Linked DNA regions of Homo sapiens: region 2 is linked to region 1. Evidence: fine-mapped expression QTL. Tissue or cell type: whole blood. Region 1 holds a variant in brackets; the other region holds the start of a gene. All regions are shown on one strand. Distances are from middle to middle.

What was found. PIP is the estimated chance that this variant, and not a neighbour inherited with it, causes the effect.
Region 2: PSMD4 starts here. The variant in region 1 is fine-mapped to the expression of PSMD4 in whole blood (INTERVAL, PIP 0.97).

Annotation. Positions count from the first base shown.
Region 1 is chr1:151,337,916-151,346,174 of GRCh38, forward strand. It overlaps RFX5 (regulatory factor X5), which reads right to left. Exons shown (of 11, transcript NM_001025603.2): 4 at 8,013-8,046; 5 at 7,191-7,273; 6 at 6,813-6,932; 7 at 6,502-6,621; 8 at 6,282-6,363; 9 at 5,766-5,967; 10 at 5,427-5,527; 11 at 2,725-5,263. The coding sequence ends at 4,271. Among named protein-coding and RNA genes, the nearest start is that of RFX5-AS1, 5.0 kb to the right of the region's middle. RefSeq lists enhancers at 5,004-5,504, 8,170-8,259. The variant T/C (reference allele first, on the strand shown) is at 3,988.
Region 2 is chr1:151,251,080-151,259,079 of GRCh38, forward strand. PSMD4 (proteasome 26S subunit ubiquitin receptor, non-ATPase 4) reads left to right here and starts at 3,655. Exons shown (of 10, transcript NM_002810.4): 1 at 3,655-3,729. The coding sequence starts at 3,704. RefSeq lists an enhancer at 3,547-3,736 and a silencer at 3,777-3,916.

The DNA.
Region 1 (8,259 bases):
TCTCTCGAACCCAGGAGGCAGAGGTTGCAGTGGGCTGAGACTGCACCACTGCGCTCCAACATGGGTGACAGAGCAAGACGCCATCTCAAAACAAAAAACAAAAAAACCCAAAATATAAAGTATACAAGTAAACAAGCTACCATGGACAGGACTCAGCAGAAAACAACAAAATGGATTTAGACATCCAAGATGTTACAGAATATAAAATAACAATCCCAACACATTTCAAAGAATTGGTGTCATAGACACTACATTCTCTGAACACAAATGATTAAGCTAAAAATCAGTATCAAAAAGATACAATTTGGGCCAGGTGCGGTGGCTCATGCCTGTAATCCCAGCACTTTGGGAGGCTGAGGCGGGCGGATCACAAGGTCAGGAGATCGAGACTACCCTGGCTAACACGGTGAAACCCTGTCTCTACTAAAAAACACAAAAAATTAGCTGGGTGTGGTGGCGGGCACCTGTAGTCCCAGCTGCTCCGGAGGCTGAGGCAGGAGAATGGCCTGAACCCGGGAGGTAGGCTTGCAGTGAGCCAAGATCACGCCACTGCACTTCAGCCCAGGCGACAGAGTGAGACTCTGTCTCAAAAAAAAAATACAATTTTAAATCTCCAGATATTTGGAAGTTTATAAAATGTTTCTAAATAGTTCATGAGTCAAAAAGTCATAAAGGTAATTTAAATATTTTTAGAACTAAGTAATAAAAATACAGCACAGAAAAACTTGTGGGATGTAGAGAAACAGGTTATTAAAAACTTAAAATAGTGAAGAAGATAGCCTGAAAATTAATTGGCTAAGTGTCAAAATGAATATGTTGTAAAGGAACATAAAATTAAACCTAAAGAAAGCATAAAAAAGATAGCTATAGATAAGATCCATAATTAATGAAATGGAAAACAAATACATAAGGGAGAGGATCAACAAAGCTCAAAGTAGCATCTGAAGATATATAGGTAAAATAAATTGCTGGTGCAACTGATCAAGACCAAAAAAGGAGGCACAAGTAAACAACAGAAATGAAAAGGAAGATATGCCTATCCACAGAGCAGAGATAAAAAAGAAACAAGGCCAGGAGCAGTGGCTCACGCCTGTAATCCAAGCACTTTGAGAGGCAAAGGCAGGCTGATCACTTGAGATCAGGAGTTTGAGACCAGCCTGACCAACATGGTGAAACCACCTCTCTACTGAAAATACAAGAATTAGCTGGCCGTGGTAGCACACACCTGTAATCCCAGCTACTCCGGAGGCTGAGGCAGGAGAATCGCTTGAACCCGGAAGGCAGAGGTTACAGTGAGCCAAGACTGCGCCACTGCCCTCCAGCCTGGGCGACAGAGCGGGACTCTGTCTCAAAAAAAAAAAAAAAAAAAAAAGAAGAGCCGGGCACGGTGGCTCACGCCTGTAATCCCAGCACTTTGGAAGGCTGAGGCGGGCGGATCACAAGGTCAGGAGTTCGAGACCATCCTGGCTGACACGGTGAAACCCCATCTCTACTAAAAATACAAAAAAAAATTAGCCAGGTGTACGTGGTGCATGCCTGTAGTCCCAGCTACTCGGGAGGCTGAGGCAGGAGAATGGCGTAAAACCCAGGAGGCAGAGCTTGCAGTGAGCCGAGATCACGCCACTGCACTCCAGCCTGGGAGACAGAGCGAGACTCTGTCTCAAAGAAAAAAAAAAAAAAAGAAACTAGAAGAAATATATGCATTTTGTGTTAAAAAAAATACATGAAATGCACAAAACCCTAGAATAATACTTTACCTAAGCTGACTCAAGAAGAATAGAAAGCCCAGTCTATAATTATTAAAGAAATGGAATCAATAGTTAAAATTATTCCCACAAAGAAACATCAATCTCAGATAGCTTTACAGGTGAGTTTTACCAAACTTTCAAGGAACAGTTTGTTTCAATCTGATATAAACTCTTCCAGAGAATAAGACAAGAGGGAACAGTTCCCAACTTAGAGGTTATATAAACCAAAGGACCATGGTAGAAGCCTCTTTAGAAATCTTACTGAAAACAAAGGCACTAACATGTACAAGAATGTTCATAGCAGCAGTTTGAAATAGCAAAATACTGAAAATATCCAAAGATCCATTGATAGGTGAATGGATAAATAACTTGTGGTTTATGAACTTGATAAAATATTATGCAGATGAAAATGAATGAATCATAGCTATCTACAACAGCATGGATGAATCTTAGAAACAATGGTAAGTGAGAAAAAGCAAACTGCAGGGGACTATTAGAGTATAACATAGCTGGGCACAGGTGGCTCATGCCTGTAATCCCAGCGCTTTGGGAGCCCAAGGTGGGCAGATGGCTTGAGCCCAGGAGTTCAAGACCAGCCTGGGCAACATGGTGAAACCCCATCTCTACTAAAAATACAAAACTTCAGGCATGGTGGCAGGCACCTGTAGTCCCAGCTACTAGGGAGGGTGAGGTGGGAGGATTGCTTGAGCCCAGGAAGTGGAGGTTGCAGTGAGCTGAGATCACACCACTGCACTACAGCCTTCACAATAGAGTGAGACTGTGTCTCAAAAAAAAAAAAAAAAAGTATAACATTTTCTGTAAAGCTAAAAAACAAGCAAAATTAAACACATTTTTAAAATTATATATACATATATGGTTAAAAAATATCTATAGCAGATAATAGACACGAAAATTAAGGACAGTGGTTACCGCTAAGAAGAGGCGGGGGACAGGCTAGGGAGGAACACAAACACAATGGTATTTAAAATGTTTTAATGTATATGTGTTATGGGTCATAGGTACTCATTAGTATGCTTCATAATTTATTCACGTTAGATATACTCTTTATAGATATCAAATATTACATATTATAATTTCTTAAAATCTGCTGTGGTGGAAATAAATGAACACATGAAGTCTCCCTGAAAGAAAATCAGTGTTTCTTGGGAAGAACCAAGATTCCCTGACAGAAGCTACCCTATGTAGAGGACAAAGTAGGTCTTCAATAAATATTAGTTGGTTTACTGCTTTTCCCAAGGATACATCTGGAGGGTCTGCATTCCTTTCTCATTGGTGCCGCCTGACCACAGAACTAGCTTTTTCCGTGACATCTAACCTAAACCCCGCAGTCCTAAGTCCTGACACGTATGACAAGATGCTGCCACCTGGTGGATACAGAATAGATTTAATGAAATGGCTAGGAAGTCTTTCACTCTAGTTGGTGGAACTGGCAATAGGGTGAGAGGGAAGCAGGAATGAGAAGACAAAAATTAAGAAACAGGAAAAGGAAGGAGCTCCATCTCTAATATGGAGGTAGAAAAAAAGGGACTATCATCTAAATGAGACTGAAGAGTCCCTAGAGGAGAATGGCTTCCCTCTCCTTCCTTCTGAGACTAGAAACGAGGAAAGAGGCTACAGCTTGTATTGAGGGAAATGCAAGACTGAGGAGAAAAGAAAGCAGGTCTAGCTGATCTCAACTTAGCAAGCTAAAATAAGAGTAGCCTGGTGTTAGCGGCCACCCAAGCAACTCCCTGCTCCTAGTTTCCACTTGGGGAATCCATGTGATTTTGGGGAGGCTGACCCCCACCCTTTTCCCCAAAGGTGTTGTCCATGATATAGAATAAGCAAATTAGCATGTATCATCCTCCTGGCCACAGTGATTGGTCAGGGTGGACATGTGACCCAGGCCTAATCAGTGTGAATATTAGGGCTTTTGCTGAGATTTCTGGTACAAAGATGCCTTCTTTTTCTGATTGGACATAAATGGGGAAAAGTGTAATCTTAGGAATGCTGGCAGCCATTAAGTGGCCCAGACTTAAATGGTCCTACAGAAGATGCAACAGTGAGAAAAAAGTCAGTCCGGTATTTAGAGACATACTGAACTACTGGGTCAAGTCTTCACCTGGAGCCAGCACTACCTATGGACTTTCTAGTTACATGAACCAATAAATCCTTTTTATTTTAAGCCAGTTTGAATTAGGTTTTCTGTGATTTAAAACCAAAAGATCCCTAACCTATA[T/C]ATTCATCATACTTAGCCCATTCCTACCTTCCCACAGGATAGCACAGGGAATACAGGTAAGGTCACTACAGATTTATTGGTTACACTAAAGCCCAGGGTATCAAGCTGAAAAGGTCAGAGGCAGCAACCAGGTACTAAGTAGACTGGGTGACTCAGCTGTCTGTACAGAGGAGAATGGACTTCCTTAGGAAAAGAATAGCCAAATGAGAAGCAAGTGCAAAGAAGGGCCTCTACTAGGCAAAGTTAACGTAGGGATATAAACACTCTTCCCCACAGACCTGTATCATGGGGGTGTTGCTTTTGGGTCTTTATGCTCCTGGGATAAGGAACTTTGAAGCACATGCTCCTTTAAGTCTTTATTACCCTGTGGTGCAGTGTCTACCTCTCCCTTTGCCAAAGGAAAAGCCTCCTTTTGGCTTCTGCTGCCCTTGATGACACTCACTTTTGAGGGGACCAAGGGAATTTTATCTTCTGCTTCTTTGGTATGCTGGGAACCGGGGCCCCTTCCTCCTTTGGAAACAGTACCATCTCCCTGACCCTGGGCAAGTACTGCCCCCTTTTCAGCCTCTCCCATTGGCCCTGGCCTCTCTGCCCCTCCAGCTGAGTTGCCTTCCCCTCCTGAGCCCCATGTCTCCCATGGTAACCTTGAGGACTGGGCAGATTCCATGGCAGCTGCTGACTTGAGAGGGGTAGAATTCCTTTCCCCACTTCCACCTGACTTTTTTCGAGGGCGCCCCCGTTTCCTTTTGGCATCACTTGCTGTATCCTCTATATCCTGCTTTGCTGCTTTAGCTGGTGGAGCCTGCCCACTGGCCTCACTCACAGGTACTTCAGCTGTCCTCTTGACACCCTTGTCATGTGGTCCTTGGTCACCACCTATGCCTACCTCTCTGTTCTCTGTGCCCCGGGGCTGAGTGAGTCCCCCAGGTGGAGCTCGCCCAGGCCCAGGTCCAGGTCCAGGCAAAGCAGGAACAGTTGGTAAGATCATGTTAATGATGGGCACAGCTGCTGGGGGTGCCCCGGCCCTACTAGACAGAGGCAGTGTAGCCACTTTCAGGGCACCTGAAGAAAGCCTGGGGGCCAGAATAGGTGGAGAGACTGGGATTGGCGGAATTAGTGAGCGAGGGGCCCGGGGAAGGAGCAGAGGCAGCCGAGCCACTAGGGCATTAACCTGCAGGTTATTGGCTCCTGGGGCCGAGCTCTCAACTACACTCTTCTTCCGCTCTCCACGTGCGAGAGGACCGGCCCCAGTTCGGGCTTCCAGATCCTTAGGAGGCTAAAAAGTAAAGAGAGGAACACAGTAAGGTGTGAAGAATGAGTATTGGGGGAAACATAGACGCCAGAGGCACAGGAGGTGGAAAAGCAAGGGACCCAATTGGAGAAGGATATACTAAGCCCCCAGCCCAGGACAGCAAAGTCAGGGCCACTGACTTCCTTACCTGGGCCAGTCTCTCTGGCTTCTTGTGGGCTCCACCCTCTGGGTTCTCTAAACCATTCTTTGGTTTAGATGACCGTTCCCGAGGTGCATGTTCGTCCTCTTCTGCAGAGGTACCAAAAAGGTAATAGAGTGAAGGTGAGGAGGAAACTGAGGAATAGGGGAGTGAGGCAATTCTGATTGACTGACTGGTAGAGACAGGAAATGGGGTGCTAAAGCATGTCTTAGAAGGGTCTCCAGGAAGAGGGGGCAAATCCAAGGTGTCTCTATTCTAGTGTGTGGGAGGGCCACTGAAGCTGAAAGTGGCTCAGGGTTGCTGAGACATAAGAGAGGGTCAACACACCAGCGAGCCCCATGGCCTTAAGCACATGGGCATGTGCAGATCGGGCAGAGATGAGATGCTGCTGTAGCAGGAAGCGGGCGACCTCAACGATGGAACTGAAGGACCGTTTCAGGATCCGCTCTGCCCAGTCACAGGTCAGGGCACACGCTGCCTCCACCAGTTCATCTCGAGGTGCTGGGGTTACTTCTGGGCCCATTTCTGGCTGAAGTGGGGAAGGACATGCCCAATCACACTCCAAATTAAAGAACCCTTGCCTCCTCTCTTGTCAGAGATCAAAGACTATTGACCAAAGCTGAGACCAGACTGGGGATGGGAGTAGCCTCTACCTATCCCATTGCAGAAGCCCACAAGTTCTCTTCATCCTCTGCCTCAGCTACAGGGTTGGCAGAAGGGAACATCATACCTAGAAGCTATGTACATAATGACTGAGGCTGTTAGCCCTCAAAACATGCCCCAAAGACCTCTGACTTTTACCTGGGAGAGAAGAGTGGAATTGGAAGGTGATTTGGTACTTACACTCTCAGAACCCTTTAGGTCAAGTCCAGGCAGGGGTGGCATAGACACCAAGGTCTTCCTCCTTATGCCACTGTAGCAATATCTGATGCAAGTTAAAGAGCAGCCAACACATGGCGATCTCCAAGCCCCTCGAGCAAGTTAAGCTGTTCCACTCCTTGCTCTCCACATCCTAAGTCTTCCTCCCAGGTCCTCCACCCCCAACCTCTCTAGTCAAGGATACTTGGACTGGCCCCGGCCACCAAGCCTTCGAGCTTTGATGTCAGGGAAGATCTCTCTGATGATCTTGCCAAAGTTGGCTGTGCTGAGTGGGCGGCAACAGGCAAGACTCTCACAGTACTTCCTGAGTGAGAGGGGAGCAGAGTGGGAAGATACTCAGAGAAGGAGGCCATGGGTAGGCTCGAAGAGTCCCTAGGGATCAAGTGTGAGGAACCCTTTAAGAAGGCAGGCTTTATCAAGGCAGGAAGCTCTTCATGGGTGAGGGGGTCCTATGCCCACCAATCCACTCATCCCACCACCCACCCCTCCACCCACCGATAGGCATCATAAACACTTTGCTTTGGCAGACAGGTGTCAGTGTGCTCTTCCAGGTGGTTGCGGATCCACCTATAGGCATACATGTACTCCTCATTGCTCAGTGTACTTGGCTCTGAGCTACAGAAACAAAAGGAACAAGCATTACTAAGACCCTAACAGTTGTCCTGGTTCTTCCCAAACTACCACTTCAGTAGTGCTGGACCAAATTTAGTTCACCCAGAATCTAACTTTCCCTGGTAAACCAAGTCAGGGCGAGGACCTTTCCTCTTCATCAAGGACAGCATTTACGAGTATTCCTATTCACCTCACCCCTTCCCAGTGAACCTTTCTCTAAGAATCAGAACCTCTGCCATCTAAAACTACTATCAAACCTACCTTTTGTCTCCAGTGGTGGGTCCTGAGGGGAGCTGAAGGTAGAGATACAGCTTGTCATTGTCAGAAAATTTCTGTACATCTTGCTGAGGTAGGAGAGAACAGAGGCAGGAGAAATAATAAGGCCAAGAAGGACCCAATATAGGACCCTCTGATCCCCACACCAAAGTCTAGCTGACTTACAGGGTGTCAGACTGAAAAAGGACCTTAGAAATTATTTGACAAGGCCGGGCACGGTGGCTCACGCCTACAATCCCAGCACTTTGGAAGGCCAAGGCAGGCTGATCACAAGGTCAGGAGATCGAGACCATCCTGGCTAACATGGTGAAACCCCGTTTCTACTAAAAATACAAAAAAAAATTAGCTGGGTGTGGTGACGGGCGCCTGTAGTCCCAGCTACTTGGGAGGCTGAGGCAGGAGAATGGCGTGAACCTGGGAGGCGGAGCTTGCAGTGAGCCGAGATTGCGCCACTGCACTCCAGCCTAGGCGACAGAGTGAGACTCCATCTCAAAAAAAAAAAAAAAAAAGAAAGAAATTATTTGATGCTAGGTGCTCTGAGGAGCCCTATAGGCTACCATGGAGAGGAGGGAAGTAGAGGGGATCAGCTCTGACTTCATCTCTGCTGGGCTTCTATGCAAGTGCTCACAGAGATCAAGTGAGAGGCACAAAGTCAAACTGGCAGCAAGTTTGCAAAGCCAACTATCTTCTGACAAGGCAGAGGACCCTACCTCTCCCACATCAATGTTTTGTTGATGCCCATCATCCTCACATCCTCCTCCCTCAGCATTTCCATCCCTCTCTTGCCCTCTTCCCCAACACACTTACCAGGATCCCCTCTACTTTGTTCTGCACGGCCTTGCTGTGGGGAAGAGGAGAAAGCTGGAGGTCACACACAAGATTTTCCCTGTCTCTTTATCTGACTGCTAGGGAGGGAAAAGGACTGAAATGCCCAGCAGGTGCTCAAGAATTGCTACCATGGCCAAAAATCTCCCTCTGCTCCCATGCCCTTGCTGAGAGGCAGTTCATCTACAGCCAAAGTGAAGTGCTGCAGGGATCTATACTCAGGTCTTGG
Region 2 (8,000 bases), 87 kb before region 1:
AAAACCCATCTTTACTAAAAATACAAAAAATTAGCTGGGCGTGGTGGGTGCACGCCTGTAATCCCAGCTACTTGGGATGCTGAGGCAAGACAATCGCTTGAACCTGAGAGGCAGAGGTTGCGGTGAGCCAAGATCGAGCCCTTGCACTCCAGCCTGGGCAGCAAGAGTGAAACTCCTTCTCAAAAAAAAAAAAAAAAAAAAAAAATTAACCGGGCATGGTGGCGGGCGCCTGTAATCCCAGCTACTCGGGAGGCTGAGACAGGAGAATCGCTTGAACCCAGGAGGCAGAGGTTGCAGTGAGCTGAGATTGCACCATTCATTGCACTCCACCCTGGCAACAGAGTGACACTCCATCTCAAAAAAAAAAAAAAAAAAAAAAAGAAGAAAGAAAAAGCAAGTACTTGGATTGGAAGAGGAATGGGGGATTCTCAAAGTTTCTTTTCATTTTTCTTTTCTTTTTCTTTCTTTCTTTCTTTTTTTTTTTTTTTTTTTTGAGACAGATTTCACCATGTTGGCCAGGCTGGTCTCAAACTCCTAGCCTCAAGTGATCCGCTCACCTCGGCCTCCCAAAGTGCTGGGATTACAGGCGTGAGCCACTGCATTCGGCCCAGATTCTCAAAGTTTTGAATTTGATTTTCCCACAGCCCCAGCCAGTCCTCCTTTTGTCTGGATAAGGAGAAAACTTTTTTCCCTAATAGGAATTGGAGGTTAACATGTTTTAGGCATAAATGTTCTGCATCCCTGACCTTGTCACTCAGAGTGTACTCAAAACTACTGAATGGGTGGTGTAGATAATCCTCTTATGATCAGAGGGTCCCTCTAGCGGTGAGCAGCGACTAGTGCTTATTCTCTAGCTATATGCTCTAATTTATATTCAGATACAAGTAGGGTCTATTAGTGTAAAACTTCTAACTAAAAGAGAAATTAAAATCATAGGATAATAAAGTTGGAAATCGTCATCTGGTCTGATATTTTACCCTTAAGCATGTCAATCTCAGCTATTCTGAGATGTATTCAGAGATGAAGTCTCATTCTTTATTAGTTTTGTTTTTCTTTTTTTGAGACGGAGTTTCACTCTTGTCGCGCAGGTTGGAGTACAATAGCACGATCTCGGCTCACTGCAACCTTTTCCTCCCGGATTCAAGTGATTCTCCTGCCTCAGCCTCCAGAGTAGCTGGGACTATAGGCACCCACCACAATGCCCGGCTAATTTTTGTATCTTTAGTAGGATGGGATTTCACCATGTTGGCCAAGATGTTCTCGATCTCCTGAACTTATGATCCGTCCGCCTCGGCCTCCCAAAGTGCTGAGATTTCCCAGCCTTGGTTTTCTTTTTTAGTCTTGCTCTGTTACCCAGAGCAATCTCAGCTCACTCTAGCCTTGACTTTCTGGGCTCAGGCGACTTTCCTACCTCAGTCTCTCAAGTAGCTGGGACTACAGGCTGGCACCATCACAATCAGCTAATTTTTGTATTTTTTTGTAGCGACGGGGGTATCCAGGCTGGTCTCGGACTCCCAACCTCAAGTGATCTGCCCACCTCGGCCTCTCAGTGCTGGGATTACAGGCGTGAGCCACCGTGCCCAGCTGGCCTTCTTTTTTTCATTATGGGAATTTCCAAACCAAAAGTAGAGTAGTATGGTGAACCACTATGTACACATAACCCAGCCTCAATAATTATCAACATAAATAAGACCAGCGTGGCCGGGTGCAGTGGCTCAAGCCTGTAATCCCAGTTTTCGGAGGCTGAGATGGGAGGCCAGGAGTTAGAGGTTGCAGTGAGCTATGTATGATTGCACCACTGCTGCACTCCAGCCCAGTGAGACCTTGTCTCTTTTGTTTTACTTTGAGACCCTGTCTCAAAAAACAAAACTATTTGTTTCTTCCAGAGGATTAAGTTAAATCCCAAACTTCATATACTTTTTTTATCTATGAATACAACATATAACCCTTAATAAAGCCTACTTTTATAAGGGTGATAACTTTAACACTATTATCATGCCTAAAAAAATTGCTTAATATCAAATATCCAGCTGATGTGATGGCTCACGCCTGTAATCCCAACACTTTGAGACTTTTTTTTTTTCAGAGATGGGGTCTGGCTATGTTGCCTACGCTGGTCTCGAACTCATGCGCTCAAGCCATCCTCCCACATCAAAAAATTAAAAACAAATTAGCTGGGCTTGGTGGCATGCACCTATAGCCCCAGCTACTCAGGAGGCTGAGGCAGGAGGATGGCTTGAACCCGGGAGGTGGAGATTGCAGTGAGCCGAGATCAGGCCACTGCACTCCAATCTGGGCAACAGAGCGACACCCTGTCTCAAACAATAAAACTTTGTAGAGACGGAGTCTGGCTGTGTTGTCCAGGCTGGTCTCAGACTCCTAGCCTGAGTTGATCCTCCTGCCTGGGCCTCCCAAAACGCTGGGATTATAAAACCTAAGCCATTGCATCAGGCCTTGAATGTAATTTTTGATTAACCAAAACGGTTTAGTGGTTTGTTCTTTGGCAGATTAGTTAATATAATTGAGTTGTCAAATCTTTTCCGGGCTCTGTACTGGGCTTAGGGAATTGTAAAGATTAAGACACGTTGCCGGCCAGGTGTGGTGGCTCACGCCTGTAATCCCAGCACTTTGGGAAGCTGAGGTGGGTGGATCATCTGAGGTCAGGAAATCGAGACCAGCCTGGCCAACATGGTGAAACCTCGTCTCTACTAAAAATACAAAATTAGCCGGGCATGGTGGAATGCCCCTGTAGTCCCAGCTACCTGGGAGGCTGAGGCAGGAGAATCCCTGGAACCCAGGAGGTGGAGGTTGCAGTGAGCCGAGATCGAGCCACTGCACTCTAGCCTGGGTGAAAGAGCGAGACTCCTCCGTCTCAAAAAAAAAAAAAAAAAAAAAAAAAAAAAAAAAAAAAAAGGCACGTTGCCCACCCTTAGTTAAACGAGGGAGGAGATAAATATACAAATAAATTCAATTGAAGGGTATAAGGGCTTGTTGAATTAAAATTCTACAGGGAACTGAGGGCTGTAGAAAGTCATTAGCGATCCCGACACTTTTTTTTTTCTTTTTTTGAGACGGAGTCTCACTCTGTCCCCCAGGCTGGAGTGCAGTGGCGCGATCTCGGCTCACTGCAATCTCTGCCTCCCGGGTTCAAGTAATTCTCCTGCCTCAGCCTCCCGAGTAGCGGGGATTACAGGCGTGCGCCACCATGCCCGGCTAATTTTTTGTATTTTTAGTAGAGACAGGGTTTCACCATGCTGGCCAGGCTGGTCTCGAACTCCTGACCTCGTGATCCGCCCGCCTTGGCCTCCCAAAGTGCTGGGCTAACAGGCGTGAGCCACCGCGCTCGGCCGATCCCGACACTTTTTTAAAATGCCGAAGCCGGAATCGACACAGCACTTTCAAAGGTTCCTCCATAGCTCCCCTGAGATCCGGCCAGCGGGAAACCCCAACTGAGAACTGCAATGGCAGGGAAAGTGGAGGCTAGATCCTGTTTTTTGTGTTACCGCGATTCCCTTCAACTACCCTCAAGACGCCTACAAATTTGTTTGGCGGCACCTACAACTCCCAGAACGCAACGTGGGGGACGGAGGCGGAAGCAGCTGGCCAAGCCGAGGTCTGTGATTGGTGAAGAGCGACGGGCCAATTGGAGGAGTTGTTGTTAGGCCGTCCCGGAGACCCGGTCGGGAGGGAGGAAGGTGGCAAGATGGTGTTGGAAAGCACTATGGTGTGGTGAGGAGCTACTTCGGGGCAGGAGGGGCAGAGCTGGGTTCCGGGCGCGTGTAGCGCCAAGGCAGGGAGGGCCTGGGGTGGGGGCCAGGGGCTCATGGGCGAGAGGCGGCCCTGGCCCCGGAGGTAAGGAGCCCGCTGGACTCCCTGAGTCATCCCGGGGCCCTGGAGTGGCGGATAGTCCCGGGTTACCACTGTTACCCCCAGGGGGACGGTCATTGACTGGTCATTCCTGCTTCCTTTCTCTGTTCTAGCGCCGTCTTCTCTAGAGCAGCCCGGGTCTGTCTTTAGCTACAGTTCTGCTTTTCGGACTCATCGTAATAGTTTTCTGCCCTCCTTTCTTTGCAAAATAACGTCTATTAGGAAAATAGATTATTAATCCCTTCCTCTCCCCATTCCCTCGTCTCTAACTTCATTACCTTTCCCTGTATCATCTTCAAAGGTACCATTTACAGATTGCTTTTTATGTATCAGTCATTTTGTTTATCTCACTTATACCTCACAACCACACCTTAAGGTAAATTATCTCTCCATTTTACGGTTCAGGATACCGAGTCTCAGCGATTTTAAGTGATTTGTCCAAAATCATACAGCTAGTTAAGTGGTGGAGTCAAGATTTAAACCCACGGCTGTCTGACACAAAGGCTTTATCCGGTGAGGTAGCTCTCTTTGTCAGTTTCAGGCTTGGGCTGAGTACCTATTACGAGTCACATTAGAAGAGGAGGACATAAATTTTTGCAGGGTTTCAAGAGTTCCTTCTAAGTGTAATCACTGAATGTAATACAGAATAGTTGACGAACACAAATCACCGATTGGGTGAAACAGGCACCTATGAGATTTCTTCTTTTTATTTTCTCGGGGGAGCATAGCATTGCCAGATAACATACAGGATGCCCAGTGAAATTTGAGTTTCAGATAAACGATGAATAATTTTTTTTTGAGACGGTCTCGCTCTGTCTCCCGGACTGGAGTGCAGTGGCCCAGTCTGGCTCACTGCAGCCTCCGCCTCCCTGGTTCAAGTGATTCCCAGTGATTGAACTAATTTACACTTGCACCAACGATAGAACAGTGTTCTCTTTTCTCGCAACCTTGCCAGCATCTGTTATTTTTTTAGTTTTTAGTAATAGCCATTCTGACTGGTGTTAGGTGGTATCTCGTTGTGGTTTTGATTTATTTGCATTTCTCTAATGATCAGTGATATTGAGGTTTTTTTAATAGGCTTGTTGGCTGTATGTATATCGTCTTTTGAAAAGTGTCTGGCTGGGGCGTGGCTCAGGCCTGTAATCCCAGCACTTTGGAAGGCTGAAGTGGGTGTATCACCTGAGGTCAGGAGTTACTGACCAGCCTGGCCAACATGGTGAAACCCCATCTCTACTAAAAATACAAAAATTAGCCAGGCGTGGTGGTGGACGCCTGTAGTCCCAGCTACTCCAGAGGCTGAGGTGGGAGAATCGTTTGAACCCCGGAGGTGGAGGTTGCAGTGAGCCGAGATGGCGCCACTGCACTCTAGCCTGGGCGACAGAGTGAGACTCCCTCTCAAAAAAAAAAAAATAATAATAAAATAAATAAATAAATAAATAAATAAATAAAAATAAAGTGTCTGATGTCTGTTCATGTCCTTTGCCCACTTTTTTTTTTTTTTTTCTCTTTGAGAAGGAGTTTTGCTCTTGTTGCCCAGGTTGGAGTACAGTGGCGCCATCTCAGCTCACTGCAACCTCCGCCTCCCTGGTTCAAGTGATTCTCCTGCCTCAGCCTCCTGAGTAACTGGGATTACAGGTGCCCGCCACCACGCCCAGCTTTTTTGTATTTTTGGTAGAGACGGGGTTTCATCATGTTGGCCAGGCTAGTCTCAAACTGCTGAGCTCAGGTGATCCACCCGCCTCAGCCTCCCAAAGTGCAGGGATTACAGGCGTTGAGCCACTGTGCCCGGCTCCTTTGCCCACTTTTTTTTTTTTTCGCTCTTATTGCCCAGGCTGGAGTGCAATGACACAATCTCAGCTCCCCGCAACCTTCGGCTCACCGCAACCTCCGCCTCCCGTGTTCAAGCGATTCTCCTGCCTCAGCCTCCTTAGTAGCTGGGATTACAGGCATGCGCCACCACGCCCAGCTAATTTTGTGTTTTTAGTAGAGACCAGGTTTCTCCATGTTGGTCAGGCTGGTCTCGAACTCCCACCCTCAGGTGATCCGCCCGCCTCAGCCTCCCAAAGTGCTGGCATTATAGGCGTGAGCCACTGTGCCCGGCCGGTCTTCCAGGATTTTTATAGTTTTGGGTTTTACCTTGTCTTTAATCCATCTTCAGTTAATTTTTGTGTATGGTATAAGAAAGGAGTCCAGCTTCAATCTTCTGCATATGGCTAGCCTAGCCAGTATCCCCAGTTATTGAATAGGGACTCTTTTTCCTCACTGCTTGTTTTGTCAGCTTTGTCAAAGAATAGATGGTCATAGGTGTGCGGCTTTATTTCTAGACTCTCTATTCTGTCCCATTGGTCTCTGTGCCTGTTTTTGTACCAGTGCCATGCGGTTTTGGTTATTGTAGCCCTAAGTAATAGTTTGAAGTTGGGTAAAGTTGCCTCCAGCTTTGTTCTTTTAGCTTAGGATTGCCTTGGCTTTTCTGGCTCTTTGTTGGTTCCATATGAATTTTCAAATAGTTTTTTCTAGTTCTTTGAAGAATGTTTTTGGTAGTTTGATAGGAGTAGCATTGAATCTGTAAATTGCTGTGGGAAGAATGGCCAATTTTAATTAATTAATTAATTAATTTATGAGACAGAGTCTTGCTCTGTCTCCCAGGCTGGAGTGCAGTGGTGTGATCTCGGCTCATTGCAACCTCCGCCTCTCAGGTTCAAGTGATTATTGTGCCTCAGCCTTCTGAGTAGCTGGGATTCCAGGCACCCGCCACCATACCTGGCTTTCTTTTTTTTTTTTTTTTTTTTTTGTATTTTTAGTAAAGATGGGGTTTGGCCATGTGGCCAGGCTGGTCTTGAACTCCTGGCCTCAAGTGATCTGCCCACCTCAGCCTCCCAAAGTGCTGGAATTACAGGTGTGAGCCACCATGCTCGGCAGTATGGCCATTTTAATGATATTGATTCTTCCTATTCATGAGCATGAGATGTTTTTCCACTTGTTTATATCTTCTTTGATTTATTTGAGCGGTATTTTGTAATTCTCATTGTAGAGCTCTTTCATCTCCCTGGTTAGTTGTATTCCTAGGTTTGTTTGTCTATTTGTTTGTTTTTTTGAGATGGAGTCTCGCTTTTGTTGCCCAGGCTGGAGTGCAGTGGCGCCATCTCGGCTCACTGCAACCTCCACCTCCCGGGTTCAAATGATTCTCCTGTCTCAGCCTCCCGAGTAGCTGGGATTACAGGTGCGTGCCACCATGCCCGGGTAATTTTTTTCTGTATTTTTAGTAGAGATGAGGTTTCATCATATTGGTCAGGCTGGTCTCGAACACTTGACCTCAGGTGATCCACCAGCCTCAGCCTCCCAAAGTGCTGAGATTACAGGCATGAGCCACAACACCCAGCCAAGGTATTTTATTCTTTTTGTGGCAGTATGCACATAGTTCTTGGCCCCATGTAGTGCATCATGGGGAACCTGCTGTTGATGTGACTGCCTTGCACATGTGCCATTGTATTACCCTTTTCGAGTGTTTTTTTTTTTTTTTTTTTTTTTGGGGGAGACAGGGTCTCATTCTGTCACCCAGGCTGGAGTGCAGTAGTGTGATCTTGGCTCACTGCAGCCTCGACCTCCGGGGCTCAAGTGATCCTCCTGCCTCAGCCTCCTGAATAGCTGGGACTACAGGCACTTACCACCATGCCCAGCTATTTTTTGTATTTTTTGTAGAGATGGGGTTTTGTCATATTGATTAGGCTGGTCTCGAACTCTTGGGCTCAAGAGAGCCTCCCTCCTTGGACTCCCTAAGTGCTGGGATTACAGGCATGAACCATCACACCCAGCCTGTATTCTCTTTTAAAATAAAGGTTTTGGCGGTAATCCCAGCTACTTAGGAGGCTGAGGCAGGAGAAGGGGTTAAGCCCAGGAGTTTGAGGTTACAGTGAGCTATGATTTCACCACTGGCCTCCAGCCTGGGTGACAGAGCAAGATCCTGTCTCAAAAAAATATGTGAAATGGCCAGGTGCGGTGGCTTACACCTGTAATCCCAGCACTTTGAGAGGTTGAGGTGGGCGGATCATCAGAGGTCAGGAGCTCAAGACCAACCTGGCCAACATAGTGAAACCCCGTCTCTACTAAAAATACAAAAATTAGCTGGCATGGTG